3 linked regions of the Homo sapiens genome follow. The protein of the gene in region 1 interacts with the protein of each later gene in a pairwise test. Each region holds a gene or a part of one and is shown on either strand. Other genes may lie near its edges. The genes, in order: AQP7, PLIN1 and MEP1B.

Region 1 (10,032 bases):
TACCCCAGACCCTGACCACACAGATCTCTGCACAGGCCCTTGCTGCAATCACTGTTCTCCTGGAAAGCTGCCAATTGAATCCCACCTTCCCACTGGCTCACCTGGACATTTCAAAGCTGCTTTCCTGCTGAAGGGAGGGGCTCATTGTGAGCATTTCCTAGGGTCTTTGCTCCCTGTTTGCCCTTAAGGGGACAACTATGCATAGAGAGGCCTCAGGATTTGGGCAGAGATGAGGGAGTCGGGAGGGTCTTTCAGGGAACGGCTGGCCTTGGCCTATGTGGAGGCAAGCAAGGAGGCTGTTCCATCAGGGAGTCCCCAGCGTGAGTGGGGAGACCGGGCAGTCACACTACACTGGGGCTACCTCCTTTCTCTGGCTGAGCAGGAGAGTGGAGAGAGTGCAGCTTGCCCGGGGGAAACTGAGATGGGCTCCCTGCCCGCCCTAATCCCCCTGTTCCCGACCCACAGCCCCTGACCAGATCAGATAGGGCACGTTCCTGCATGGAGCTGCTCACTTACTGGGACCGTGCTGACGCAGGCAGGGAAATATTAACCTGGAAGAATGGTCGCATGTTCACGTGTGCACAACTTGGGGAGTGTGTGTGTGTGTGTGTGTGTGTCTCACTACAGAGAGGCTTCCGCGTGCAAGACCAGACACACATAAGCAGATGCATGTGTGCGCACATACACACATACACAACACACACACACACACACACCTGTCCATCCACACAGGCACATGCTCACATATAGGTATATACAAAGACACAAATGCTTCTCACACATGCAAATTTCTTCAGTGTTGTCTCCCTGGCTGCTTCCGTTAATAAGACCCCTCTTCCTTCAGGAAGCCTTCCCTGATAGCTCCAGCTCATACTAGAAAGTGACAAGTCTGAGCTCAATCCCTGGTTTCAGATGCCAAGTTAGGCAGCTCCATATAGGCTCTTTTAGGATGGAGTAGGCCTAGGTTGGAATTCTGGGTTCTCGACTTCAGGGGATCTTTGCCCTTGGACAAGTGGCTGTGCCTGATCCTGTCTGCCTTGGTCTCCATCTGCTCTGTCCTGAAGGCCCATGGATGATTCTGAGAAGGATGAGAGCCTGGGCGGGGGGCGAGGGGGAGTTCTGGTAATTGGTGGGTGTGAGAGTTAAAGACCTTCCTGGGTCCTGCCTCTGCCCTTGCCCCTCCCCAGCCTCGCCGCCTAGTAGGGGAACCCTGGTCTCCTTGGGGTGAGCCAGAGCCCTGGTCTGGATGTTCTAGTTCTAGGTGATCTTGGGCAAGTTGTTACCTTGCTCTGAATCTGTTTTCCTACCTGAAAAATGAGTTTGGAAGGAGATGCTTACTTGGGTGGGGCTTAAGTGTCTTTTCTTTTTGGGGCATTCTGAGAACCTTCATGGCTTCAGATGATTCGAGAGAGACCAGGGCTCCTTGAGGGACCTGCCCTGCCCTCCTACCCCCACCCCTGCGCCTGGAACCAGAGTGGCTCCTTCCTTGCTTGTTTATACCATGGGCTCCTGAGTTATGCAAAGGATTCCGTGGCTCGAAAGAGTCGGAAAAACCACAAGTGTAAAGCAGCGTGATGAAAAGCAGTTTTTGTGATAAGTTAATCCAATGGCATGTTGATTGAAACAAATAATTAATCAAAATGTTTAGTTTTTGTGCGTGTGTCAACACTTTGGGGGACATTCGGGGACAGTTTTTAGCACCTTTAGTCATTTTTGTTTCTTCATTCTGATATTTTAAAATTTCGATTTGCATTTTCATCCTTAATTGAGTTTCAGCCAATTGTGTTTATCCCATGTTGTTCACAATAGAGAAGTGTTGGGTCCATTTAAAATTGGAGACAATCTAAACGCTCATCAATAGAAGGATTCCTTATTATATAATCTCCATCAGGTGGAATGCTGTACAACAGGCATGAGGTGGACATGGACCTACTGTCATAGAAAGATATTCTTAACAAATGTTTGAATGAAAAAAGTATTTTAGACCAAGTGCGGTGGCTCACGCCTGTAATCCCAGCACTCTGGGAGCCCGAGGCGGGTGGATCACCTGAGATCAGAAGTTTGAGACCAGCCTAGCCAACATGGTGAAACCCCATCTCTACTAAAAATACAAAAATTAGCTGGGTGTAGTGGCTCATGCCTGTAGTCCCAGCTACTCGGGAGGCTGAGGCAAGAGAATCACTCGAATCCGGGAAGTGGAGGTGGCAGTGAGCCAAGATTGTACCACTGCACTCCAGCCTGGGTGACAACAGCGAAACTCTGGCTCAAAAGATAAAATAAAATAAAAAAGTATTTTGTTTTATTTTTATATATTTATTTATTTTGAGACAGAGTCTTACTCTATCACCCATGGTGGAGTGCAGTGGTGCCATCTCAGCTCACTGCAACCTCTGCCTCCTGGGTTCAAGTAATTCTCCTGTCTCAGCCTCTTGAGTAGCTGGGATTACAGGCACCTGCCACCATACCTGGCTAATTTTTGTATTCTTAGTAGAGACGGGGTTTCACCATGTTGGCCAGGCTGGTCTCGAACTCCTGATCTCAGGTGATCCACCAACCTCAGCCTCCCAAAGTGTTGGGATTACAGGAGTGAGCCAATGCACCTGGCTATATTTTTATTTGCTAAAAATAAAACTCTGTGTGTGTGTGTGTGTGTGTGTGTGTGTGTGTGTGTGTGTGTGTGTGTGTAGGTCCTGGACAGTCACAGTTTAAGCATCAAGAGGGCCTGAGTTTAGACCAAAGGTATACCAGGTATAAGGTTGTGGCAAATATTGTTTCTTTGAAATTTAAATTTAACTGGGCATCTTATATTTTATCTGGTAACTCTACTCAAGCCCATCCTATGAAGAAAGGACCCCGGGTGTCCCCTCCCTCTCTGCCCCCCAACTATCTCCACTGGCTCAGAGACCCAGAGACCCCCCGCCGCAGGCTCTGTGCAGACTAACATGCTTCACAGCTCTGACCCAAACTCCCACCTTGGTGGCCCCTTTAGCTGCCTCTCTTCTCTCTGCAGTTGAACTTTCTGCCTCCTCAGCCTCTGCTTCTTCAGTGCTGTTGCCACCCTCTATCCCCACCAGCTCATCCAGGCAGCTGTCTGCAAACACCTGCCTGGCCAGCCCCTCCCAGCACCCAACTCTGGGGCAACAGCCCCCTACTGGCTCCCATCAGCCTCTGGGCAGCCCTGTGTCTGGGTTTCCAGCTCCTTCCACACCCACTCCTTCTTCGTCATCCTTCTTCCCCAGAATCCTGGCCCTGGCCCTTGCCTCACTCCCTGTGCTTCTTGGGCAGCCCCAGCAACTCTAGTGCTGAATGTCCAGGGGCTGATATCTCCTCTTCTCTTTCTCCAGCTAGACTCCTCTCCCCAGCCCAGGCCCAACTGCGCCTCTGCCTGCTGGATGCCCTGGGGCCTCAGGGACCTCAGGTTGACCCTGTTGCTCTTCTCTTTGTTTAGAACCCTTTGCAGGCTCCTCAGGCCCTCGGGTTAAAGTCAGAACTCCTTGGCCTGGCTGACAAAGCCCTTCATGGTCTATCCCTGCCCACTTCCGCAGCCCTCTGCAAGTCACTCGCAGTTCCCAGGTTTTCTCACAATCCCATCAAGCTTCAAATGCCCCGGTGCCCCATCCCCCTGCTCGTTTTGGAAAACTCAGTTCCCACGTCACCTCTAACGGAAGACCCTTGTACCCCTCCAGCTTGGGATAGCCCCGTCTGTATTCCTTCCAGCCTATCTGGTGTGTCCTAAGTCACCTGCTGCTTACCTGTCTCTGCCGTGAGACAGATGGGACTGTGTCTTCTCCACCTCTCAGTCCCCAGGGTCAAGCCCTGTAAAAGAGCTTAGAGCCTGATCTCTGACCCCAGCATGGATCCCAATTCCCTCCCTCACCAACCTGACACCAGCCCATTCCAACTCTGCCCAAGTGCTGACCTCATCCAAGACCCCAGATCCACTTCTAACATGACCTCATCCCGGCCCTGGGAGCACACATGGGAAAGGAAAAAAGGCAGGACTCTCCCATTTCCAAGCGTGCACCCCTCCCTTCCTGAGGAAGAAAGGCTGAATCTTGAGCCCACGTAGAATCTGCAGAGGGAGGCCGGGCGCAGTGGCTCACACCTATAATCCCAGCACTTTGGGAGGCCGAGGCGGGTGCATTACCTGAGGTCAGGAGTTCGAGACCAGCCTGACCAACATGGTGACACCCCGTCTTTACTAAAAATCCAAAAAAACTAGCTGGGCTTGGTGGTGCATGCCTGTAATCCCAGCTACTTGGGAGGCTGAGGCAGGAGAATCACTTGAACTGGGAGGCAGAGATTGTGGTGAGACAAGACTGTGCCACTGCACTCCAGCCTGGGCGGAGCGGGACTCCGTCTCAAAAAAAAAAGAATCTGCAGAGGGAAGTTAGTGCCTTACAGAGGGCTTCTGACTAGGAAGCCCCGGGACTGTGGCCGACCCCTTCCTCTCCCTGCCTCACCCCTGCAGAAAGATCTGCAGAAAAAGCTGGAAGGGGTGGGAGGGTGTGTGCAGGGGTGGGGACTGGGGCTATGCAGGTTCCAGACCTGGTCTTTGGCACCCTCTACAGGACAGTTCCATTCCCAGACCTGAGCTTTGGACAACTGAATCTTATGCCCCTTCCCACCCATGGAGCCTGGTGCCGGAAGTTCCCAGGACTTACCCACCGTCCACCACGCCACATAGCAAGCGTCCTCAGTGTCTGCAGACCAGAAACACCTCCCTTGTGTCTCAGCACTGGGCCACCTGCTGAAACCCCAAACTGCCTGCCCCATTGTTTGAGACCCAGTCAGGCCTTGGCTCCAAAAGTCCTCTGGGACTGCTGCTGGCCCCCAGGGTCTCTCCTGACTGCACCTCGGTCCCGGAGCTCCCACACCGCTGAGCCCCGAGCCCGATGTCCCGATCCAGCTCTGGGTCCTTTACGGGGGCCTTGCTGGCCTTTCCTAAGGGAGGTGTTTTCCCGAGGACAGGTGGACTGCTCCTCAGACTAGGGGCCCTCGGAGGGCCAGGCCTGGGCTTCTACCTCCTCTCGCAGGCTGGTGTTTCTCTGCAAATATGGCTCGTGTGTCCTCCTTCCTCTCAGACTGGGGGCCCCTGAGGACTGGGCCTGAGTTTCCCTTTCCCCCTTCACAATGGGGGTTCCCTGAGGACTGACCCAGGGCCTCCCCCGTCCCCTCCACCTGGCTGTTAATCTCCAACACTTCCACCTCCAGTCCTATTCTGCACAGCTCTCCCCAGCGCTGGGGGCTCAGAGGCCTCTTCAGCCTTCCCCAGGGCTGGGGCTCAGGGAGGGCTTCCTCAGGCGCTGGCCCCAGAGTCAGGCTGCACATTGGCTTGGAGGACAGGCCTTTCCTCTGGGACTGAGAGGCCCAGAGTGCCCACCCAGAGCTCCACCTCTGACCTCACAAAGGCCTGCTTCAGAACTCGGTCTCCACGGCACTGCTGGCCGGACGAGGGATGTTATTTTGGGCAGTGCATCTGGACTTGGTTCAAGTGGCACCAGCCAAACCCCTGCCTTACTGACCTCTCCCCTGGAGGAGCAGGAGCAGCGCTCGAGGCCGCCCTGGGAGAGCTGAGAGGCAGGCTCTGGACTGGGGACACAGGGATAGCTGAGCCCCAGCTGGGGGTGGAAGCTGAGCCAGGGACAGTCACGGAGGAACAAGATCAAGATGCGCTGTAACTGAGAAGCCCCCAAGGCGGAGGCTGAGAATCAGAGACATTTCAGCAGAGTGAGTGGGGCTCCAGGCAGGGTGGGGATGGGGCAGCCTCCTCAGCGCCCAGATCTGGAAGGGCCATTCCCTGGGTACCATACAGGGAGGAGGTGACTGAGGGATTGTTTGGGGAAGGAGCCCCGTCTGGGAGTGGAAGTCCCGGCTTTCTTGTTATGGTGCAGTCCTGTGTTGCTGTGTGACACAGGCACATACACCCTCTCTCTGGGCCTCAGTTTCCTTACCTGTAAGTTGGTTGTTGGGAGGACCAGCGGTAGAGCAGAGATGGCAGGGATGCACTGAGCTGGGCTGTCAGCAGACCATGGGGGTGGGACGAGGAGAGAGCTGAAGACCACCGGCAGTGGACCACAGCGGGAGGCGTGCAGGCAGGAGACGGGTCAGCTGCCGGCTTGCTGGAGTCATTCCTCCCACGCAGTCCCCTCCTGAGGGGCTGGAGCTGGGGCTGGAGGGTTTCGGCAGTCAGGGCTGGAGATAAGAGTCTGTGCTGGAGCTAGAGGGAACTGGGCTAGAGAATCAGGAGGACAGACAGGGTGAGGGGACTTCGGGCTACCTTCATGCTGTCAGTTAGAGATAAAGATAGGAGTACAAAGGGGAATTTTTGGGTGAGGTACACGGGTGAAATGAGTTTTCAGGGCCTCATCCTGTGTGTTCACCTTCTGTGTGTGTGTGTGTGCATGCGTGCATGTGTGTGTGTGTGCAGGTCCTGGACAGTCGCAGCTTAAGTTAGCAGCAAGAGGACTTGAGGTTAAAGGTATAGCACGCAAATATGAGGCTGGAGCCACTGAGTAGAGGCTGAGGGCATCTCCACAGTCCAAAGCCGGGCTGCAGACACGGAAGGTCAGCAGGAGCACTGGAGGGTCTGGCCTGGGGCTGGGGTCCTGGGGCCAGCATGGGTGGGGTGGGGCTCCAGGGCGTCGCCTCATTGGCTGAGCACCGCTCCTCCCTCCCTGTTCCTTGGCTGGGTTAAGGGAGTGGCACTAGCAGGAGCTGCCCCAGGGCTTCTCCCCTGGGGACCAAGGTCTGATGGAAGTGTGGGGCCAAGTTCTGTGTCCTCCAGCCCTAGTGACCTCTCTTTGGCTCCTCAGCATCTACAAATCTGAAAGACAAAACATGGTTCAAGCATCCGGGCACAGGCGGTAAGTACCCCACCCTCTTCTCACCCTCCAGCCCCCTGTCCTTCACCCAGCCCACTTCAGTGCCCTCCCTGTTCCATCCTCAGCCTCTCCCTTGGGGCAGCTGTCCCCACTCGACCTCCTCCTCCCCACCCACCCACTCGCCTCTGAGGTCCCAGAAGAAGAGCATCTTCCACCTGTTGCCTGGGCTGGGTCCTGGGGTGAGGGGAGGCTCAGAAATACTTGGATGAGGGTCAAGGCATGCAGGTGGCCTTCAACTCAACTGCACTCAGCACCTCTCACCCTCTCAGGCTCAGCTGTCTTTGGGGTGAACAAGAGCCAGTCCTTGCAATGGCCAAGGCCCAGCCTTGTTAGCTTTCTGGCCTCCCCACTCCAGCCCCCTGCTCTCCCTCCTCCAGCCACACTGAGTTTCTTTTCAGGTTTTTTTTTTTTTCCGAGATGGAATCCAGTTCTGTCGCCCAGGCTGGAGTGCAATGGCATGATCTTGGCTCACTGCAACCTCCTCCTCCCGGGTTCAAGCGATTCTCTTGCCTCAGCCTCCTGAGTAGCTGTGATTACAGGATTACAAGCACACACTACCACACCCAGCTAATTATTATTATTATTATTTTGGTATTTTTAGTAGAAATGGGGTTTCGCCATGTTCGCCAGGCTGTTCTTGAACTCCTGACCTCAGGTGATCCACCCGCCTTGGCCTCCCAAAAGGTTGGGATTACAGGTGTGAGCCACTGCACCTGGCCTCACACTGACTTTCTTTGCTTTCTTCAAACATGCTGAGAGTCCTCTGGTGACTAGTCTCCCTCCACCTGAGAGGCTTTCTGCAGCTAACATACAGCCCACTCTCGTCTCCTTCATGGCTTTGCTCCAAGGCCACCTTCTCAACAAGGATTACTCTGGCTGCCCTATTTGAAATCACACCCCATCTCCAGCCCCTGCACTCCCAATTCCCCTCTCCTTGCTCTGTTTTTTTCCGTAGGAGCTGGTACCTTCGCTTATACAAATGTACTTACTTATTACATTTCATTGCTGTCAGCTCCACGCAAGCAGGGATATTTGCCTGTTGTACACTTGGACGGAGAGAATGAATAGTGCCACTCTGTTGACATCATTGCCTCTAGCCTACATCGCTCTCCAGGGCTTTAGATCCTGTTTCTAGAGACCCACTGGTGTCTCACAGGCAACTCAGCTCCTAGATGGAAACAGCCTCCTCCGCCCCCTGCAAGTCCACTCCTCCTGTGCTCTTGGCTCAGTCAGGGGTCCCCTTCTCCTCAGTTGCTCAAGCCAGAAGTCAAGGTCATGTCCTTCATACTTCCCTCTCCCCCATGTCTCACATCCAGTCACCAATCTCCTAAAATATCTAGAATGTGCACAGCTTCCACCATTCTTTCTACCACCACCCTACTCCCCCATGGCCATGTCAGGCCACCACCCGCCCATTCTTCAAAACCCCCTTCAGGCCTCACCTCCCATGCCTTCCCTGAGCTCCCCCAGTCCCAGGCTGCTTCTCTCTGGTGTTGTTGCCATTACCCATCTCTTCCATTAAACAGAGTGACCCAAGGGTGGAGAGTGGGTTTTGACTTTGTATCCCTGGTGCTTGACTCATAAGTAGATGCTCAACAAAAAAAAATTTTTTTTTTTTGAGATGGAGTCTTGCTCTGTTGCCCATGCTGGAGTGCAGTGGCATGATCTCGGCTCACTGCAACTTCTGCTTCTTGGGTTCAAGCGATTCTCATGTCTCAGCCCCTCCCCCCCCAGCTGGTATTACAGGTGCCTGCCACCATGCCCAGCTAATTTTTTTTTTATTATTAGTGGAAATGGGGTTCTGCCATGTTGGCCAGGCTGGTCTTGAACTCCTGACCTCAAGTGATCCACCTGCCTCGGCCTCCTAAAGTGTTGGGATTACAGGCATGAGTCACCATGCCTGGCCAACCAATGTTTGTTGAATTAAGAAATGTTGGTTAGCAGGTTGAATTGTTGGCTCGTGGTTAGTTGGATAGTTTATGGTTGGCTGGTTGATTAGATAATTAAATGAGTTAATAGCTGGTTAACAGGAGAATCAGTTAGTTGGTTTTTGATAGGTTAGTCAAAGGGTTAGTAAGCCACCAGGCGTGGTGGCTCATGCCTGAAATCCCTGCACCTTGGGAGGCTGAGGCGGGAGGATTGCTTGAACCCTGGGAAGTCTAGGCTTCAGTGAGCTGTGACTGTGCCACCACCGCACTTCAGCCTGGGCGACAGAGTGAGACCCTGTCTCAAAAAAAAAAAAAAAGGAAAAAGAAAAAGAAAAGAAACAGGCTTTTAGTGAGCTGTTAGCTATTTAGTTCCTTGGTTAGCAGATTACTTAGGGAATCTGGTTGGCTGCCAGTTTCTTGCTTTGTAGGCTGGCTTTCTTGGGCCCCTCTTCTTAGTCTGTACCCTCTCCTTGAGCTCTCTCATCTATGCCCATGGCTCAGATGACCATCTGTGATTTGCTGTCCTCCAAATGTGTCTGTAAGTGAGACCACATGACCAGCTGCCTCCTCACTGGCCATCCCACCCAAGTGTCTAGCGGGCTCCTCACACTCAACATGCCCAGAAAGGGCCTCCTTGTCCATTCTCCCACAGCTTCTCTGCTGCGCCCCACACTAGTCAGGACCTGCCCTAGCCAGGACCTGAGGGCATCGCTGAGCTGCCCCGCTCTCTTCCCTCTCTAACCAAACACCAAGCCTGTCAGCTTGACTGTGCTCTTTTGGCCATTGGCGCTGCCATCTCTGTGGCTCAGGCTGCCGCCACTTCTCCACCCATCTGTGGAGAAGCTGATGCTCACCCTGCCTCCACTCCACTTCCTCCATCCTGGCCTCCACAGGGGAGGCAGCTCTCCTGCTGAAACCCTCCACTTGGCCCATGGCCCTCTGGTAGAGTTCAGACTCCCTAATGTGGGCCATGAGGCCTTCTGCCACCTGGCCCTGGCCCCTCTCTGCCCATCTCATGCCACCTCCACTCCTCCGTGGCCAGCCCATTCCTGCACATTGGATACTGCCTTAGCTGCAGGCCTTTGCACATGCCAGTCCTACGCCCAGAGTGATCCCTGCCTCCCTGGAGGCTCCTTTACCCTCCAGCCTTCTTTTCTTGACCTAAATTTCCCTTTCTCTGGGAGCCTCCTACCCCCTCCTCTAGGCCATTCACTTCCTCC
Region 2 (9,761 bases), on another chromosome or scaffold:
CGCCTGGCCTCTTAACCTGAACTCTTATAGGAAACATTATTCTTGGCCGGGCATGGTGGCTCTTGCCTGTAATCACAGCACTTTGGGAGGCCAAGGTGGGCAGATCACTTGAGGCCAGGAGTTCGAGACCAGCCTGGCCAACATGATGAAACCCCATCTCTACTAAAAATACAAAAATTAGCCAGTGTGGTGGTTCATGCCTGTAATCCCAGCACTTTGGGAGGTCTAGGCAGGTGGATCACTTGAGGTCAGGAGTTCGACACCAGCCTAGCCAACATGGTGAAACCCCATCTCTACTAAACAGAAAAAAAAAAAAAAACTAGCCGGGCGTGGTGGTGGGCGCCTGTAATCCCAGCTACTTGGGAGGCTGAGGCAGGAGAATCCCTTGAACCCGGGAGGCGGAGGTTGTAGTGAGCCGAGATTGTGCAACTACACTCCAGCCTGGGCAACAGAGCAAGAATCCATCTCAAAAAAAAAAAAAAAGAAAGAAAGAAAAGAAAAAGAAAGAAACATCAGTCTTGACAAGTAAGCTATGGAGCAACTCATTGCTATGGGACCCTAAGGAGTGGGGCTATTGTGTGTGATATTCACCCTCCAACCTAATGCCTTCTGTTCAGGGCAAATGGGCCCCCAGGCAGCCTGGGCCTAGTTGGTGGCCATGAGAGGTAGGGAAGTGACCCAGTGGAGCTCAAGCCTGAGGGCTTCTGATGGGACCTGGGACTCTGTTTTGCAGCTTGAGGAGCGAGGATGGCAGTCAACAAAGGCCTCACCTTGCTGGATGGAGACCTCCCTGTAAGTAACTTGGGCTCATCTGTGACAGGGGATGGACAACTGAGGGAGGAGGAAGAAGCAGGGAGGGGAGATGCAGGGGACTTAGAGCAAGATATTCCCAGATTATAATCCTAGTTCATTGACTACCATGGCTTAGTTATTCTTGCCCTCACCACCTTTTGTAGGGGGCAGTTGGAGGATCTGGGAGGGGAAAAAAAGATGCCTATTAAAAATTAAGCACCTTGAAAAAAAGGGACAGAAATCCTGGCTTAGGGACGGGGGGAGTGGAGAGGAAGGAAACTACTGTTTAAACCCTGACGCAGAAGCCCATGCTCTGTCCACCACCCAGCTGGATGTGCATTCAGTGCAGAGCCACTGTATTCTGTGTCTCCAGCATCATTCATAACGGCAAATGTCACCTGTCGGAGTTAGACGGTGCACAGCCTGTGCTGCTGTGTGGGGGGAAGGGTGGGATATTCCATGTGTCTGGTGTTCTATCTCTGACCTGGTTTTCACTGTGACTTGAAGTGATTTGATACTTTTAGGGATGCTTGATGGCTCCTGGCAAGGCATCTCAGATTTGGGCACAGTTCGGATAGTGAAACTTAAAAATTATGAACCTGTGCAATATCCACCTTGCCCAAGTTACGCTTTTACTAACTCCTGCACTAGGAATCACTTTGTTTTGTATTGAATCATAGAACAGAGAGAGGCGTAAAATGGTCAAGTACATGGTTAAGCCATTCTAACAGACGGTGGTTTATTCCCTTCCCAGGATCTCTTTCCTCCTTCGGTTTTGTGTAAAACAACCTCTGAAGCCTCGTCCAAAATGTTAAAAAGAATGTTTTCTTGTTTATAGTCATAGTCTATTTCTAGTTCAAATTTCAAATTCACCTGCAGGATAAAAAACTAAGATATTGGCCAGGTGCAGTGGCTCACGCCTGTAATCCCAGCACTTTGGGAGGCCAAGGCGGGCGGTTCACAAGGTCAGGAGATCAAGACCATCCTGGCTAACACAGTGAAACCCCATCTCTACTAAAAATACAAAAAATCAGCGGGGTATGGTGGCGGGCGCCTGTAGTCCCAGCTACTTGGGAGACTGAGGCAGGAGAATGGCATGAACCCAGGAGGCAGAGCTTGCAGTGAGCTGAGATCGCGCCACTGCACTCCAGCCTGGGAGACAGCGAGATTCCATCTCAAAAAAACAAACAAACAAACAACAAAAAAAAACTAAGATATTGTGGGCTGCTCTGTCTTAGTGTACATGTAGGTGTCATTGATGGGGGTCTTTGAACTCTGCCTCCTACTAACAGAACAGGTCAGGTCTTCACTTTGCGAGCAAAACCATGCCACAGTGTCATATTCAAAGCTACAGAGAGCCTGAGCATCGGAATCTGACCTGGGTTTTTTTTTCTTTTTACTTTTGATATGGAGAATTCTCAACATTCATAAGAATAGACAGAAAAGAACATAGGAAGCCCCACGTACCCTTTATTAGCCCCGAAGACCATGAATTCGTGGCCAATCCCGCCTCGTCCTCACTTCCATTAATTCCCCCACTTCATGTTATTTTGAAGGTAATCCCAGGTAGGCCATTTCCAACTTGTGTTGGAATCCTGGCTCTGCCACTTATCAGCTGTGGGATCTTGGGTAAATCACTTCCTGTTTCTGATTGTCAATCTCCTCATCGACTCAGTGTTGGTGACAGTGCTGACCCCAGAGGATGGCTGTTAGAATTAAGTGAGCTCATGTCACCAAGGCACCCAGACCAGTGCCTGCAGCATAATGGCACCTGGCAAATGTTCTTTCCCTCTGCATGCCTAGAATTTGTTCTTTTAATTTTATTTATTTATTTTTTAGATATAGAGTCTTGCTCTGTCACCCCGGCTGGAGTGCAGTGGCATTGTCATAGTTCACTGCAGCCTCGGACTCCTGGTCTCAGACAGTCCTCTCACCTCAGCCTCCCCAGCAGCTGGGACTGTGTAGTCCACATGCCATCAAATATTAGCATGGCCAGCTTTTTTTTTTTTTTTTTTTTTTTTTGTGGCTCAGAGTGGTCTCAAACTCCTGGCTTCAAATGATCCTCCCGCCTCAGCCTCCCAAAGTGTTGGGATTACAGGCATGAGCTTCTACACTTAGCCCTAGAATTCATTCTTTTACTCAAAGACCAGTGTTTTTTCACTAAGGTTCCTAGGTGACCTAAAACTTAATTATGTGACTGCTGCCAAAGGTGCATTACTAACAGCACAGCACCCCGGAAATGATAAACGATTGTTCCACTACACCCAGCACGTGCAGATCGCACCCAGAGTGCTGTCTTTGAGTGTTGTTTGTTTGTTTTTTGTTTTTTGAGACAGGGTGTCATTCTGTCATCGAGGCTGTGGTACAGTGGCGTGATTATGGCTCACTACAGCCTCCAACTCCCGGACTCATGCGATCTTCCCGCCTCAGGTTCCCGAGTAGCCGGGACCACAGGCACACAGCACCATGCCCTGCTAATTATGTTATTATTATTTATTATTTTTTTTTGTAGAGACGGGGTCTCCCTGTGTTGCCCAGGCTGGCCTTAAACTCCTGGGCTCAAGCGAGGGTAGTATATTTTTAAGAAAGATAATGTAAAACTGTAGCATGTCCAGGAGAGGGGGTCACCAGACCACAGTGTGAACCATTTGTAAACGAAGTTAGGAACTGGAGCCATTTAACATGATGGCGGCACTTCTAAAGGGAGACATATTTGACTTCAAATATGTGAAGGGCCAACCCATGGATGAGGAAATAGGTTTGCTCAGTTTTGTTCCAGAGGGCAGAGTGTGGAACAGGGGGGTGGAGGCAAATTTCAGCTCAGCAAAGCTGTCCAACAAGGGACACAGGCCACTTTGTGAGGGGGAGAGCTCTCATTCAGGGAGACATTCAAATATAAGTCTTGGCTGGGCGCAATGGCTTAGGCCTATAATCTCAGTGATTTGGGAGGCTGAGGCAGAAGGATCACTTGAGTCCAGGAGTTCAAGACCGGCAAGACCCCTCCTCTACAAAATAAAAATATTAGCAAGGCATGGTGTCACAGGCCTGTAGTCCCAGCTACCCAGGAGGCACAAGTGTGGGGACTGTTTGAGCCCACGAGTTGGAGGTTACAGTGAACTATGATGGCACTAATGCACTTCAGTTTGAGCAACAGAGTGAAACCCTGTCTCTATAAAAAATAATAAATAAATAAAAACAAATACAAGTCGACCAGAGGAAGGATGGAAAGGATTCTTACTACAAAGTCCCCTAAGATTCTGTGATTCTGTGCAGTTGGGCAGATCTAAACCTACACATTCTACTAGGCACAGCCCTGACTGTGGTTCACGTATTCAGCTAATATTACTGTGCCATGTTTGGCCTACACTCTGGGGATGCGGAGATGACAGTCTACGGGGAGTGAGATGAACACACATAACCACAGCACGGTGTGACGAATGTGGAGAGAGCCAGGGAGGGAGTGGTTTCCGACGTGATGGAGGAGAGTCTGGAAGCTTCACAGGGGGAGTGCTGGTCAAGCAGAGTCTTGAAGGAATGGCATTCTGCCAGGCAGCAAGGGCTGTGGGAGGGAAGGTGAGCGTTCTAGGCAGTGGGGTCGGGATACACAGGCAGGGAGGCAGTACCCCAGAAAGACCAGAAAAATGTTTGGAGAAGCCACCAATCAAAGGTGGACTAAAACTCTAGACATTAACAACACTTGCTCTCTACCAGTAGGTATCAGGGGAGTGAGCTGAGGTGGGGGTGGGAGTGATGGGATCTGACTTGGTCCCTGGAGAACAGAGATTGCCTTGGCAGCTCTCCAGCACCCCGGATGGTGACCAGGAGGACATGGCCGGCTGACTCTTGTTTTCCCCATGGGCTCTCCCACGCTCCCATGATTGGGGCATCTAGAGACCTCTTTGGCCTTGGTTCCTCCCAGGTCGCTTGGACTCAGGCTAGTTGCACCATTGGTCCCCATGACCCCGGGGTCAGCTTCCCGGGAGGCTGGAGAGGGAGGTGGGACAACTTGAATGTGTTCCTTCCGCACCAGGAGCAGGAGAATGTGCTGCAGCGGGTCCTGCAGCTGCCGGTGGTGAGTGGCACCTGCGAATGCTTCCAGAAGACCTACACCAGCACTAAGGAAGCCCACCCCCTGGTGGCCTCTGTGTGCAATGCCTATGAGAAGGGCGTGCAGAGCGCCAGTAGCTTGGCTGCCTGGAGCATGGAGCCGGTGGTCCGCAGGCTGTCCACCCAGTGTGAGTCCTTGCGGCGCTCAGCAGCTGCCTGCTTGTTCACTGCCTACCTTCCAGTCTGTCTGTCCGCCTCTCAGTCTGTCTGACTGTCTGATAACTTGCTTGTCTGTCTGCTTAACTGCCCACATCCCATTGCATGGTCTTCTTATCTATGGCTATAAAGGTATACATACAGATCTCTTTTCTTCTATAGATGCCTATCTATGGCCCAGCTGGCATTTTCCTAGGATAACAATGATGGCCAGAGAATCTGCAGGGGAAGGGAAGGCAGAGCTGTGCAGGCAGTGGTGAGGGTAGGGCCCATGGCAGACCAGACACTCACTGTCGCAGCACAGGCAGCAGCAGCAGCAAGAACCAGCAGAGTCTGGCAGAGGCAGAGGCAGCCGGCACTAGGGGGCCTGGCAGGGCCGGAGGGCACGGAGGGAGGGGAAAGCTGGCTGAGCCCAGCAGCTGATGGTAGCGGCTCATGACGGGTGGGGGTGGCAGAGAGCCTCCAGCCAGGGCCCTAGAGGCAGAAGATGGCTCTCCTACTGGCCTTACCAGATGTGCACCACTCAAATTGTTCTGCCCCATCTGAAAATGTGGTCTCCAAGGCATACACAGGGCTGAGGGAAATCGCAGCAATGCCAAAAAGTCTGGTACCTTCCACCATCCTAATTACAGAATTATGGGTAGCTGAGGACTCCACACAGCAAACAGGAGAGGACCGATGTGAAGTAGGCCCAGGCCCTGTCCCTGGCTACAATCTCCTTAAATAGTTTCCTTGAGTCTCATTCTGCCCAACTGGAAGACAGCCAAGTCATCTGGGCTCTCTGCTGCTTGAGAATTTTGTGAAGAAAAATAAGGTATCTGGCAAAAGAATATATGAAAGAGTATGAAGAACTCTCCTTGAAAGCTGTGGCCCCCATTGGCCATGGCTGCAGAGCCGATGTCCCGGCCAATCCAGGCGGGATCCCCTTGAAGCAGGTGCATCTCTGATGCATGCCCACTCTCCGGGGGCAACTCTTTTCCCTTCCCTGTGACCCTCTTCGGACAGTTGACCATCTCAACACCTAGTGGTTAAAAAGAAGAGCATGGACGGCCTGGGGCCTGCACTGGCTGTGCTGGGAGTTTGTCATGTTGATAGCTAAGCAGGCCCAGCCCCAAGGCCTCACTGCCATCTGCTTCCCTCTCACACCTCTCTTCTCCCTCCTCATGCTCACTCAGAGCCCCCTTGCAGGTCAGGAAGGAAGAGAAGGAGGGAAAGAACGGTACTTGTTGGTGATTCATATAGCTCCCATCATTCTTCTTCACAAAAATCCTGCCAGGCAGGCACCATTAATTCACCTTTTACAAGGTAGGAAGCAGAGGCTCAGACAGGCTGTGACTAGCTGAGGCCACAGGCTTCTTAGATGTGGTCACTTGGCCTTTTGAGTGCAGGTCTGAGCGACTCCAGAGTTCCCACACAGACAGAAGAAACTGGCCCGGGTCTTGAGGAGTCCCTGCAGACAAGGGCGAAAGAGGGCAAAGGGCCTGGGGCCCAGAGATGCTGGGGAGGCAGCAGGCCTTGGGATTTGAGGGCTCCAAGTCACTTCCTTGGCACAGAAGCCACTGCTAGATTCTCATGGGGAGGGGCAGGGCTCACCCAAACTTGGCCCTTTCCTTCCAGTCACAGCTGCCAATGAGCTGGCCTGCCGAGGCTTGGACCACCTGGAGGAAAAGATCCCCGCCCTCCAGTACCCCCCTGAAAAGGTGAGCCCTTCCCACCTCTCGAAGCCTCCCTGCACTCTGTCGTCACCGCCTCTCAGGGAGGAGAGGGCAGGGGCTGCTGATGCCGTGACTGGAAGTCTGTGTCCCATGGTGAGCACCCTCCAAGGCTGGCGGAGAGTGCCTGCTCCCAAGGCCACACAACAGGCTCCTCTTCTCCCTGTGAAGCTAAACGGAGGTGGGGTTTCTGGGACCAGCAGGCACGAGCCCAGAGGCAAACCCAAACAGGAGCTTGAGGCGGGTCCCACTGCCTCCCGATACCGCACCCTGGGATCTGAGGTTCCATAGTCTGCCCTGGACCACTTGGCAACTACAGCTGCCTAAGATCATGAGTCACACTCATTCAGATCCCAGGAGTGTCATCCCATATCCTCAAGATCCAACCTTTTATGGACCATGAGATTGAAGGTCACTTTACCTGGCTACATATTTATTGGGTAGTTGCTATGATAAGGACTCATTTTTGGTGCTTCTGGGGAATAAGCTTCAGTCTCTGACCTCATCTATCTCACTGACCAACTATCTACCCTTCCCACAAACAGGTACTGAGCCCTACCCTATGCCCGGGGCCATCACCTATGCTTTATCAAGCGCTCTTCTTTAATCCACTTGTCAACCCTCTGGGATAGGGGTTGTTATCTCCATTTTACAGAGAGGAAACCAGTGTCTCCCCCACGGCCACACAGCCTTAAGTGGGGACAATGAGAGCAGGTCTATTCAGCTGTGAGACCTGTGCTCTTTGCTCCCCATTTTTCCAGATAAAAGGCAACATTTTTGTCACAAAAGAGCTCCCAGAATAATGAAGAAAAAGACAAATTATTTCAGTGCAGAACTTGTAGGAAGATCAAGCACACCTATAAATCAACAGAAATGCTGTGTTCTGAGGAAAGGATGGAGGAGATTCCTTGTGAGCCCAAGGGTATCAGGACAGGTGGCACCAAGGACGAGCCTTTGGGGTCATCCTCACAGGATGGGAGGGATCTTGACAGGCTGTGATGCGGGGTGAAGAAGCCAGGAGATCCAAACAGTTGGCACAGGGAAGGTTGGAGCCCTCTCCTCTAAAGCCCAGCTTAATTCCAGGTACCTAAATATCAGTACCAGTTCCCTGGGCCTTTAGGTGATGCCTTCCTGGGAGCTGGGCTCAGGCCACCAGACCCCGGAAGGGCAGCCCTTGTAGGGCCTGCAAGACCACATGCCTAACACCCCCACCAACTTCCCCCAGATTGCTTCTGAGCTGAAGGACACCATCTCCACCCGCCTCCGCAGTGCCAGAAACAGCATCAGCGTTCCCATCGCGAGCACTTCAGACAAGGTCCTGGGGGCCGCTTTGGCCGGGTGCGAGCTTGCCTGGGGGGTGGCCAGAGACACTGCGGAATTTGCTGCCAACACTCGAGCTGGCCGACTGGCTTCTGGAGGGGCCGACTTGGCCTTGGGCAGCATTGAGAAGGTGGTGGAGTACCTCCTCCCTCCAGACAAGGAAGAGTCAGGTACCTGCCATTCGGAGGCTCGGCCTGGGAGTGAGTTGTCACACACACTGCCTGGGAATCAGCAGGAGGTGGCTCAACCAGCCACTGCTCTGGAATAGGGAAGGCCAGTGGGATTTTCAGATGGATTCATAATCATTTACCCCCCCCACCCCCACCCCATCTGTAAAGAGGGAAAGTGAGTTGTGGAACTCACCAGTGAGTTTGTGGTGGACCTAGAACACCTACTTTCCAGTCCTAGACATGACCCAGATCTCTCCGGCCCCTCTCTGACCTGTTTTCTCTTCTTTCCCCCCAAATCCCTACCCAGCCCCTGCTCCTGGACACCAGCAAGCCCAGAAGTCTCCCAAGGCCAAGCCAAGCCTCTTGAGCAGGGTTGGGGCTCTGACCAACACCCTCTCTCGATACACCGTGCAGACCATGGCCCGGGCCCTGGAGCAGGGCCACACCGTGGCCATGTGGATCCCAGGCGTGGTGCCCCTGGTAAGTATCTGCCGTGAGCTCTGACTGACCCGGTGCCTGGGAGCCCTGTGGGCCTCCTAGTCCCTCCCATCCCCCACCCATCACCCCTTCCTGTCCTGAGAACATTCTCTCTTCCAACGTGGGCTGGGGCTTCAGTTCTAAGAGGACTTGAGAGGGGTAGAGGGATGGCCTTCCAGACCACAGGGAAAGAGAAGGGAGAGGATGTTAAGCAAGGGCAGGCCTGCCTTGCTAGAGTGCTCCTTCCCCACCACTCACTTCTATCTCCCCCATTTCCCTCTGAGTCTCCCACAAGCCCCAGCCTTCATACCCCCAAGTGGACCTCTTTCTATGGGTCTTCCCACCTATAAGACAGCAGGACCTCCATCTGCTATGCAAGCACTAGGGACTGTCATCCTTAAATAAACAAAGTATACAACCCATTTTGTCAGGGAGAGTGTACCCAGCACCAATGCACCCAAGGTGAAGTTGCCCTTTCTAGGCCCAGGGAGAGTTAACTCCCCACCACTCCCCACCACTCCCCACCTCCACCTCTCTGTATCTTAGCAGAAATAGGCTGGATGTTTTTCATAAGGAATTTTAGTAAGAAACTAAGGCCAGAAAAGAAAATAAAACAATACTAAAGCATAAAGGCCAGCAAACAAGATGACTACTTTTCAGCCATCTTTTGAGCAGTACTTTTAAAAGCATCATCAGGCGTGGATCATTCATTCAAGCAAGTGTTGCCCCTGCAGGAATACAGGAGTAGTAGCTCCCCTCTGTCCCCTGCATCAATAACAGCTGAGACTGAGTCACATGCCTGGACCCCGCCTGCAGTGGGCAGAACCTCACGTGCCACCATTCGCATGGAATAGAGTGGCATCCCCAAAAGCTGTGTAATAAGGAGTCTCTGTTTGTGGGGCTCCCTAGAGGTTTAGAATGTGCCTCAGGAGATACCAGCCCCCTTGCTCAGTCAATTTCTTCCCATGGGACACTCTGGTTCATTGAATTTTTCACTCTTAAAAGATCTGGGAGGAGTATCTACCAA
Region 3 (9,761 bases), on another chromosome or scaffold:
TGAGGAAATTCAGAGAAAGAATTAAGAGATTCCTAACCAAGATAAATCTAAAAGCTATTTGGGATGCATTTGTTAGATTTAGTGATTGACTGTAAGAGGTCAAGAAGAAGGTGGGTGTAGAGAAAGAGATTCTAGTGCTCAGGATTCAGTCCTGGGTAGCTGAGGGCATGGTAACGTCTTCAACAAGAATGGAGAATTTAACCTTGAGGAGCATGAGACAGAGAAGCATGGTGGAAATTAGTTTTTGGCATGCAGAATTTGAAATGCATCAGAGTCACTGTGGTGGAGATACCAAATAAATTCTTGGTATATGACCTGGTCATTCAAGGTCGAGAAATGTTTGGGAGTTATTAGGATGTAAGAGATGGTTGAAGCCGTGAGTATGGATGAGCATTTCACACAGTGCCTTGCATAGAGCAGGTGCTCCATAGATAACTGGATTTTATTGATTTATCCTGGAAGGTTGTGTTGAATAAGTAAGAAGATGGTCGAGAATGAAACTCAGTGCCATTTTTTGGAACTGGTATAGAAGGAAGATCTAGTGGAAGTTATTGAGAAGGGGGAATTGGCCAGAAACATAGATAAAAAACTAACAGTAGGGTAGGGAAAGCCAGGGCAGGAGTAGTTAGCGGGGTTGGAAGCCATAAAGAGCACAGGGGGCATGAGGAGAGAAAGATGTTCATTGACTTTTGGAATTAGGAACCTGAAAGATTTTGAATATACATGTTTTTTTGGTTTAGTCTTTTGATTAAAAAATTTTTAAGTTCTTTTGTTTTAATTCTTCCTTTTTTTCCTTTCGTTCGTTCCTTCCTTCCTTCCTTCCTTCCTTCCTTCCTTCCTTCCTTCTTTCTTTTTTGAGACGAGTTCTCACTCTATCACCCAGGCTTCAACCTCTGCCTCCCAGGCTCAAATGATCCTCCCACCTCAGCCTTCCAAGTATCTGGGACCACAGATGCATGCCACCATGTCCAGCTAATTTTTTGTATTTTTGGTAGAGATGGGGTTTCACCAGGCAATCCACCCACCTCGGCCTCCCGAAGTGTTGGGATTACAGGCGTGAGCCACCACATCCAGTTATATTTCTTTTTTTAAAAAACTTATTCTCCTAAGTATGTTCCATGAAAGATTAGGGAGCTTTAATTTTATATATATCTTAGGCTATTTTTTTTTTGCCATGTATTTAACCATGAGCTTTATTTATTTTTTAAACAACATTATAAACAACATAATGAATGCCTTGAGGATAAGAGCTATTTTTCATCTTGCAAATTGGAGGATTACCATAGTCTCTGGCGTATTATATGTAATAACATTTTTGAAATAAATTGATAAGCATATGTATATATATAAATGAAAAATGTTAGGTAAAAATTCAGCCTAGATCCTACCATCCAAACTGTGCACATTTTTACATAGTTATAACTATGATGTCTTAAATCTTTTGTTCTAATTTTTTCACTTAATGTTATTGCATTTTTTCATATTGTATAGTCTTTATAATAGAATCAAACTTCAAATTTTTATAGAACAATTTTTTTCAATTATGTGATTTTGATTATTTCTTATTTAGAAAATACTTTTGTTTAATATTGTAGAATTCAACTTGTTTTCTATGTTCAAATTAAGAAAAGTATCCTTACGTTTCAGAAATGTATACCATCTTCAAATGACTCAGACTAAGAAAATTACTAAGCAAGGCCACTCTTACAGGTAGCAAAAATAAATACCTATGAAGGGTTGATTTCTGGAAGGCCCTATTACTCAGATTCTAGTAGGTCAAACTGTGAAATTCTACCAGTAGGGTTGTAGTCTTTGAGCTTGAACTTCAGATGTTACCTGGCTGGTAGATGCAACTTCCCTGAAAGGAGTAATACTCATAGCAGCCATTTATAGTTTCCAGGGCCTAAGTTATAATTCCTTGCCTTAGCACCAAGGCAGAAAAGGCAGTGGGGGAGGCTGAGGGTAAAGAGTTGGGGATGGAAATGAAGGGGAAGGTGCTAGAAACCTGAAGGGGCTACTAAGGGGAAACAATCCTGAACAGCTGCTTACTGAACTCCTAGGATTGCCAGCAACTTGCCTCATTTTCCAAAGCCTGGCATGGTTCCAAGTGGAGCTTTCTGCATCTATAACGCAAGGTTAACTAAGGCCCTCAGTAAATAAAGGCATATGGAAAACAAAGATCTTATCTTGGTAAAGGGCCTCAGTGTTTATAAAGCTTTCACGTGTTACTTTATTTATTAATTCAAGAAACTATCCTCATTAAGTTTTGATAAATGGCCTAAACTAGTATGCTCTTTTACATTCTGTTTAAAACAGTGATATGGTGGTCAGTATTATCATACCTTATTTGAAGGAAATATTACATTTGAAATAATGACCCAAATATGATACTTATAGGACAGAACATTTTGAACGTTAACAGCCATATGTAGATACACACACACACACACACACACACACACACACACGGCATACTATTTCAGGGTGTTCATAGACCTTCCCATCTCAGCGTCCTCGGATTAAAAGCCCAGCTGTGAGGCTTTAAATACATATTATAGCTTCTCAGATTAAGTATGTGGTGGCAATTTATTTTGATTGCCTGTGATCCAATGTCCAATGGATCCAATTTGTAATCCTCTATTCATTAAAATGATAAAAAGAATAATGATGAAAAAATATTTTGATGACATAATATTTAGTGAAAAAATAGTTGGTAAAATGCTATGTAGATGACTTTATTTTTTATAGAAATATTAACATATGTATGTTATATATGTATTCAAAGGCAAAATGTATGGTAAGGGTGATTGATTATTCCTGGATGATAGGATTTTAAATTTCTTTTTATTCATATCAATTTTTAACTTATTTATAACGATAGTGTATTACTTATGTGGTATTGTAAAAGTCTGAACTTAGTGCCTTTTACAACTTATGGATTTTAGGGTCTTCCCTATGTGAATCCTGTTCTTGATCTTCTTAGACCTGCCTCAACAGAGGCATACCAAGTAATCTTCCTTGAATGTCTATGCAATGGTTACTCTAGAAGGGAGAAAGGAAATGAACATTTGACAAATGCTAATTTTACTTGGAACTTCACCTTTACTTTCTCTTACTATCCTCACAATATCCTGCAAAGTTGATTTTATTTCCTCACTTAACTGATAATAACACCAAAGCTCCAAAGGTTGATTGAATTGGCAAAAGTTTTATGTCAAAAGTGAGTGGTGAGGATAGGGAAGAACTTAGGTGTGTCTGGCTCCAAAGTCCAAGCACTTTCCCCTCTGCCATACTGTCTCCCACCTCCTGGCAGGCTCCCATCTTTCACGTCACTAGGACCTGGCCCATGTGATGCCTCTCCATGTGCATCTGATACAGCCCGTTCCTCCTGGTCACTCACAAGTTTCTTTTCCTGCATGTTGTTTCTTCCACACCTCTGCCTTCTTTGAGCTCCATATCCATATCACTCTTATATCCAGAGCATTGGCTCTTACCCTTATTTTGGGCCCTGAACTCACTTGCAGACCTCATGAAAGCTCTCTCTAGAAAATGCACTTTGCATTTGTAGATATGCACACACACACATACACACTTTGCATACTATTTCAGGGTATTCATAGACTCTCCCATCTGAAGATCCTCAGATTAAAAGCCCAGCTGTGTGGCTTTAAATACATATTATGGCTTCTCAGATGAAGTACGTGATGGTGATTATTTATTTTGATTGCCTGTGATCCAATGGATATGTTCTCTGAGGTAAAGATGCATTTTTATTGTTTAGTAATGCACCATTAGTGAGTGAGTGCTAGAGAAATATAAGGCCAAATAAGGGATCTGAAGAATAAGCAGATACTGTATATGATATTCAATGGGTACTGAATTCTAATTTTTGTAAAAATAAAAGACTCAACATTCATGAAGGGACTAACTCATGATAAGCAATATATTGCAGTGGCCTGCTTCCATGGAAGATTTTTCAGTGGTGATTGTTTTAATAAGCTTATTTTTGTTTGTTTTCTTCCTTCAGAAATGAATGCTAAGGGAGTTATCCTCAATGCATTTGAACGTTATCGCCTTAAAACATGTATTGACTTTAAGCCTTGGGCTGGAGAAACAAACTATATATCAGTGTTCAAGGGCAGTGGGTAAGTTGCAGACTTAGTCTTCTAAGGCATCTAAGGAGAACTCTAGTGCCTGGGACATTACATTGCAGCAATCATCCTAGGCTCTGACCTTTAGGAAGGGGTGGGGACTTTCTTGCTAGTTGCTGGAGAGTAAAAAACAACTGGATCTAGTTTTTGTAGACATAGAAATTATATTCCCATACATGTAACCGCCTTTAGACAAAGTGGAAAGTGGATGGGATTGCATGCCATCAGACCCACAACCTTGTGAATTTCAGCCCGTTTGTAATTTACATACTCTTTATCCCTTTCAAGTAAAAAACATGTGTATTTATGTGTGTCCATGTCTGTGCTTAAGCTTATTTTAACCTAACCACTCTTATTTCTTGGGTTAAGAAGGCGACAGTATTATTTGTCTTGAGCTCAGCAATTCTGAGTGGTTGCTGTCCCTGTAAAACCCTTGTTAATGGGCACAGGCATAACGAGGAGCTCAAAGACTTTGAAATTCACAAGAAAAACCAGGTCTAGACCACCTTGAGGACGATTTGCTCCTATGTAATATTTGGTGTTAGGGCAAGTTCTTTAAAGATCACCTGGTCTGTAAGGTTTTTTAATATTATACAATACCTGGTATATTAGGCCATTCTTGCATTGCTGTACAGAAATACCAGGGACTCGGTAATTTATACAGAAAAGAGGTTTAACTGGCTTTCAGTTCTGCAGGCTTTATAGGAAGCATGGTGTTGACATCTGCTCAGCTTTTGGGGAGGCCTCCGGAAGCTTATAATCATAGTGGAAGGTGAGGGTGGAGCAGGCATGTCGCATGGCAAAAGCAGGAGCCAGAGAAAGAGTGGGGAGGGGGAGGTGCTACACACTTTTAAATGACCAGATCTCATGAAAACTCACTATCGCGAAGACAGCACCAAGCCATGTGTGGTTCGTCCCATGACTCAAATACCTCCCATGAGGTCCCACCTCCAGCACTGGGAATTACAGTTCAACATGAGATGTGAGTGGGGACAATTGTCCAAACTATGTCACCTGGGTTATGAGAGAAACGCACAGTGTTCAGATGTAAGAGCAAAGGTGGGTAATGAAGTGGGTAATGAAGTGGACTAGGCAGTGGCGATTCTGCCCTGAGACCTCAGATTGTAACATTCTCTTCCCCCTTTCTTGTAAACTCTCCTGTAAGCTGCTGGTCTTCAGTAGGAAATAGGCGGGTTGGGAAGCAAGAACTTTCCATCGGGGCAAACTGTGACCGAATAGCAACAGTTCAACACGAGTTCCTCCACGCTCTGGGATTCTGGCATGAGCAGTCGCGTTCTGACCGGGATGACTATGTCAGGATAATGTGGGACAGAATTCTGTCAGGTACATTTCTCTTTTTTTCCTATGTTTTTAGTTAAGGACTGAATTTCTAAGCATGTGTCCTCTCTTGTCATCTGTGGCAACTGTTAATAATTTTAAAACTTTGATGTTTTGATGTCTTAATTCATTCAGCTTGAACTCATTCTGAGTTATTGGAGCACTAGTATTCCAGAACCCATATGAGCTAGATATGCTCTAGAAACTGGTTTTGTGGTTCTTAAAGCATATTCAGTCCCACAATATGTTCATGAGTATTATGTGGAACGGAGTCTGTGGCCAAATTAGTTTTGCAAATCCCCAAGTCTTAGTCCATCTTGCACTGCTATAACAAAACACCACAGACTGGGTAATTTATAAAGAACTGAAATTTATTCCTCATTGTTCTGGTGGCTGGAAAGTCCAAAATCAAGGGGTGGGCATTTGATGAGGGCCTTCTTGCTGTGTCACATACCATGACAGAGGGCAGAGGTCAAGGGAGAGTCAGAGAGAAAAAACAGGACCAAATCTGTCCTTTTACAAGGAATCCACTCCTGCAGTAGCAAACCTACTTCTGCAGCAATGGGATTAATCCATTTATGAGACGGAGCCCATGCCCTAATTACCTCTCATTAGGCCCCACCTCCCAACACTGTTGCACTGGGGATTAGGTTTCCAATACATGCTTTTGGGGGGACATATTCAAGGCATAACACCTAGGTTAAAAGAAATTAGACTTACTTATCCTGCTATACTGCTCTGAGTGTTTATTGGGTTGACAGGAATTGTAAATCTCTAAGAAAAGGAGCATTTCCCAAAATGATTTGATCATGGTCTTCTTTTTTCTTTTTGCAGAGTAGCTTGTAGAGTATTTGGATTTATTGTTTCATGGAACAATTTTCAGTAATAGTTGAGTAGCATGAACTGTTTGTGATTTTGTGTTCAAAGTCACAAAGTCTTAATAACTATGTCTGACTAGAGCTCATGTTTTCCACATTCCACAGTGACACTCAGCTTCCTCATCTGTCCTGCCTGTGTGGGGCGAGACAGAGGAAAGGGCATTGCTATTATGTCTGAGGCACTGTGAGGAGTGCCCTATACAAGGTCCCCTGACACCACACTTCTTGAAATCACAGCTCTTGCTCTTTATCCCCCGACTCTGCTTATCTCAAATGCGGTCAGGCATAGCAGCAAACTAAAAGATTTCTAGAGAAACAGCAGTGTTTAGCTTTAATCCACAGCCACACTCCTTAGGATTCCCAAAGTCTTATTTTTGATCTAAACTTCTGCTCACATTTGATAACACATCTTTATGTTTTGGAGATCAGAACCACCTTAAAGTGTCCACAGAATCATTCCATTTCAAGTTGAAATCAGTTGCCCATTAGTATAATGCTAAATGGCCTGAATGTCTTCTCTAAATATATTCATTTTTGTTTTTTATTATTATTTTAAACTGACAAATCATAATTGTATATACTTATGTGGTACAGTGATATTTTGACATGTGTACACAACGTGGAATGACTAAAACAAGCTACTTAACATAGCCATCACCTCACTTATCATTTTTATGGTGAGACATTTGAGGTTTATTCTCTTAGCAATTTTGAAATATACATTATTATTAACTATAGTCATTATGCTTTATTTATTTATTTATTTTGAGACAGAATCTCGCTCTGTTGCCCAGGCTGGAGTGCAGTGGTGCGATCTTGGCTCACTGCAACCTCCACCTCCTGGGTTCAAGTGATTCTCCTGCCTCAGCCTCCCGAGTAACTGGGATTATAGGCGCCCGCCACCACACCCGGCTAATTTTTGTATTTTTAGTAGAGACAGGGTTTAAACATGTTGGCCAGGCTGGTTCATTGTGCTTTAAATACATCTACACCTATTCCAGTAACCATGAATTATGGTTAGTCAATAACTGCATGTCAATGCTTTTTAATGACTCCTCTGTAGGATAACTAGAAAGTTATCATTCCCAGGTTTCATCTCACCATCCCTTCAAAGCCTTCTTACTTCCATCTCCATCTACTGTGGACGTCCTCAGCCTGCCATCGTTGCTGGCCAATGCCCTGACTGGTTCAACAACACTTTTTTTTTTTTTTTTTGAGACAGAGTCTTACTTTGTCACCCAGGCTGGAGTGCAGTGGCGTGATCACAGCTCACTGCAGGCTCGACTTCCCAGGCTCAGGCAATCCTCCCACCTCAGCCTCCGGAGTAGCTGGGACTACAGGCATGCACCACCATGCCTGGCTAATTTTTAAAATATTTATTTTATTTTATTTTATTTGAGATGGAGTCTCATTCTGTCACCTAGGCTGGAGTGCAGTAGTGCAATCTTGGCTCACTGCAACCTCCGCCTCCTGGGTTCAACCAATTCTCCTGCCTCTGCCTCCTGAGTAGCTGGGATTATAGGTGCGCACCACCACAATGGACTGATTTTTGTATTTTTAGTAGAGACAGGGTTTCACCATGTTGGTCAGGCTGGTCTCGAACTCCTGACCTCATGATCCGCCTGCCTCGACCTCCCAAAGTGCTGGGATTACAGGCGTGAGCCACCACGCCCGGCCTTAAAATATTTATTAGAGATGAGGTCTCACTTTGTTGCCCAGGCTGGTTAGCAGCACTTTCTAGAATCCTCCTTTCCACGAGCAATTTTTACAGCCTTAGACTAAATGCCAATGTCCTAACTATGGGCTGCAATAGAACCTTAGATATGTTCAGTGTGACTGCTGGTATCACAGTTCTAAGCTTGAATATTATATTGTAAGATGGGAATAATGAAACTGTTGTTAGTTGTAGCAAAAATTGCTTGAGTTTATTATATTCTCCATTTCTAAGTGAGCAGTATTTGGAGTAAGATAAGCTGAATTTTGTGAACATCAAGTAAAGATTTTTTATTTATCCTTTAGGCAGAGAGCACAATTTTAACACCTATAGTGACGATATATCAGATTCCCTGAATGTTCCCTATGATTACACTTCAGTAATGCACTACAGTAAAACTGCATTCCAAAATGGAACAGAGCCGACAATTGTCACAAGAATCTCAGACTTTGAGGATGTGATCGGCCAACGAATGGATTTCAGTGACTCTGATCTCCTAAAGTTGAATCAACTGTATAACTGCTGTATGTGACAGGTTCTTTGAAATGACTTATATTTTCCGCTGTTATGTAGGAAAAAATGATGGTCTGTGCCATTTTGTCAAGCATTGGTGGGGTTTCTGCGATTATAGAGATTTGATATTCAGGAAATAAACAGAATAGCACTCAGATCTCAATCTACAACTTGGAAGCAGCATTTTTCTTTTCACCACGTCTGGTGTTGAGATCTAAAAACAAATTGGGTCCTGTAGGAATATGCCTCAGGCAAGTTTTTAAAGCTGTTACTAATTCAAACCTCGGTCAGATTGATACTCACACTTCCTTTTAGCCAAAATGATATGTCTAGTTGTAATATGAATGGGATCAAATAATCTGGATTGTGGCTTAATGATTCGAATAACTAGGGGAGTATAGACTCAGGTTTCTACAAATTAGAAAATTTTTTTTAAAAAAGACTTCAGGCAGGGAGCTTATTCAGATCTACAGAATTCATTACCTTCTTTGTAGGGGTTCTGCAAATAAAGAGGGATCTTTAAGCCACCATCATCCAGAATCAGCTAGGTGTTCCCTGTAATACCAACCTGGCATTTCTAATACTGTGATAAGTTCAGTTTTTGTTACTTAGATTATCATGTTGTATGAGTGTCAATAATTGTTTTTTGCTTTTTGTAGCCTCTTCCTTGAGTTTTATGGACTCGTGCAGTTTTGAACTGGAAAATGTGTGTGGCATGATCCAAAGTTCAGGAGATAATGCTGACTGGCAACGGGTTTCACAGGTTCCCAGGGGGCCAGAGAGTGATCACTCCAACATGGGCCAGTGCCAAGGTAACAGGAGTGAGATATTCCTAGACTGTATACTCAGTGGCTACAGCCACATACTTCTCTATGAAAGAATGGGATTTTATCTCTAATTTCTATCAGAATTATTAATGATTATTCATTAGGTTACTACTGAGAAGTAGGCCTTGCACCTGATAAAGACATTGTTAATTTCTTTGCTTTTCCTTCCTGAGTTTATTTTTCTTTCTACAAGTCAGAGCTGGGCTCTGTGATGCCTCTACCAGTGCGTTCCCATAGGAGAGTGTACCAGACTGGGCCTCCTGCAAGGCCTCTTATCTCAGGGGCAGTACTATTGTTTCCTAGAAGTTTGCAGAATACAAGAGACTCTTTCCAATGGACA

What was found.
Region 2: the proteins of AQP7 (region 1) and PLIN1 interact in binary tests that used the Homo sapiens proteins (3 or more experiments, as listed by UniProt).
Region 3: the proteins of AQP7 (region 1) and MEP1B interact in a protein complementation assay, tested with the Homo sapiens proteins (one study listed by IntAct).

The regions. Positions count from the first base shown.
Region 1 is NC_000009.12:33,398,071-33,408,102, reverse strand, and holds the start of AQP7 (aquaporin-7), read left to right. Parts: upstream 1-5,534; 5' UTR 5,535-5,730; intron 5,731-5,954; exon of another isoform or gene 5,955-6,582; intron 6,583-6,815; 5' UTR 6,816-6,840; coding exon 6,841-6,866; intron 6,867-10,032. UniProt on the Homo sapiens protein: Aquaglyceroporins form homotetrameric transmembrane channels, with each monomer independently mediating glycerol and water transport across the plasma membrane along their osmotic gradient. Could also be permeable to urea.
Region 2 is NC_000015.10:89,668,476-89,678,236, reverse strand, and holds part of PLIN1 (perilipin-1), read left to right. Parts: intron 1-733; 5' UTR 734-747; coding exon 748-792; intron 793-4,822; coding exon 4,823-5,027; intron 5,028-6,672; coding exon 6,673-6,755; intron 6,756-7,992; coding exon 7,993-8,257; intron 8,258-8,564; coding exon 8,565-8,737; intron 8,738-9,761. UniProt on the Homo sapiens protein: Modulator of adipocyte lipid metabolism. Coats lipid storage droplets to protect them from breakdown by hormone-sensitive lipase (HSL). Its absence may result in leanness. Plays a role in unilocular lipid droplet formation by activating CIDEC.
Region 3 is NC_000018.10:32,198,866-32,208,626, forward strand, and holds part of MEP1B (meprin A subunit beta isoform 1 precursor), read left to right. Parts: intron 1-4,027; coding exon 4,028-4,145; intron 4,146-5,316; coding exon 5,317-5,495; intron 5,496-8,386; coding exon 8,387-8,605; intron 8,606-9,253; coding exon 9,254-9,406; intron 9,407-9,761. UniProt on the Homo sapiens protein: Membrane metallopeptidase that sheds many membrane-bound proteins. Exhibits a strong preference for acidic amino acids at the P1' position. Known substrates include: FGF19, VGFA, IL1B, IL18, procollagen I and III, E-cadherin, KLK7, gastrin, ADAM10, tenascin-C.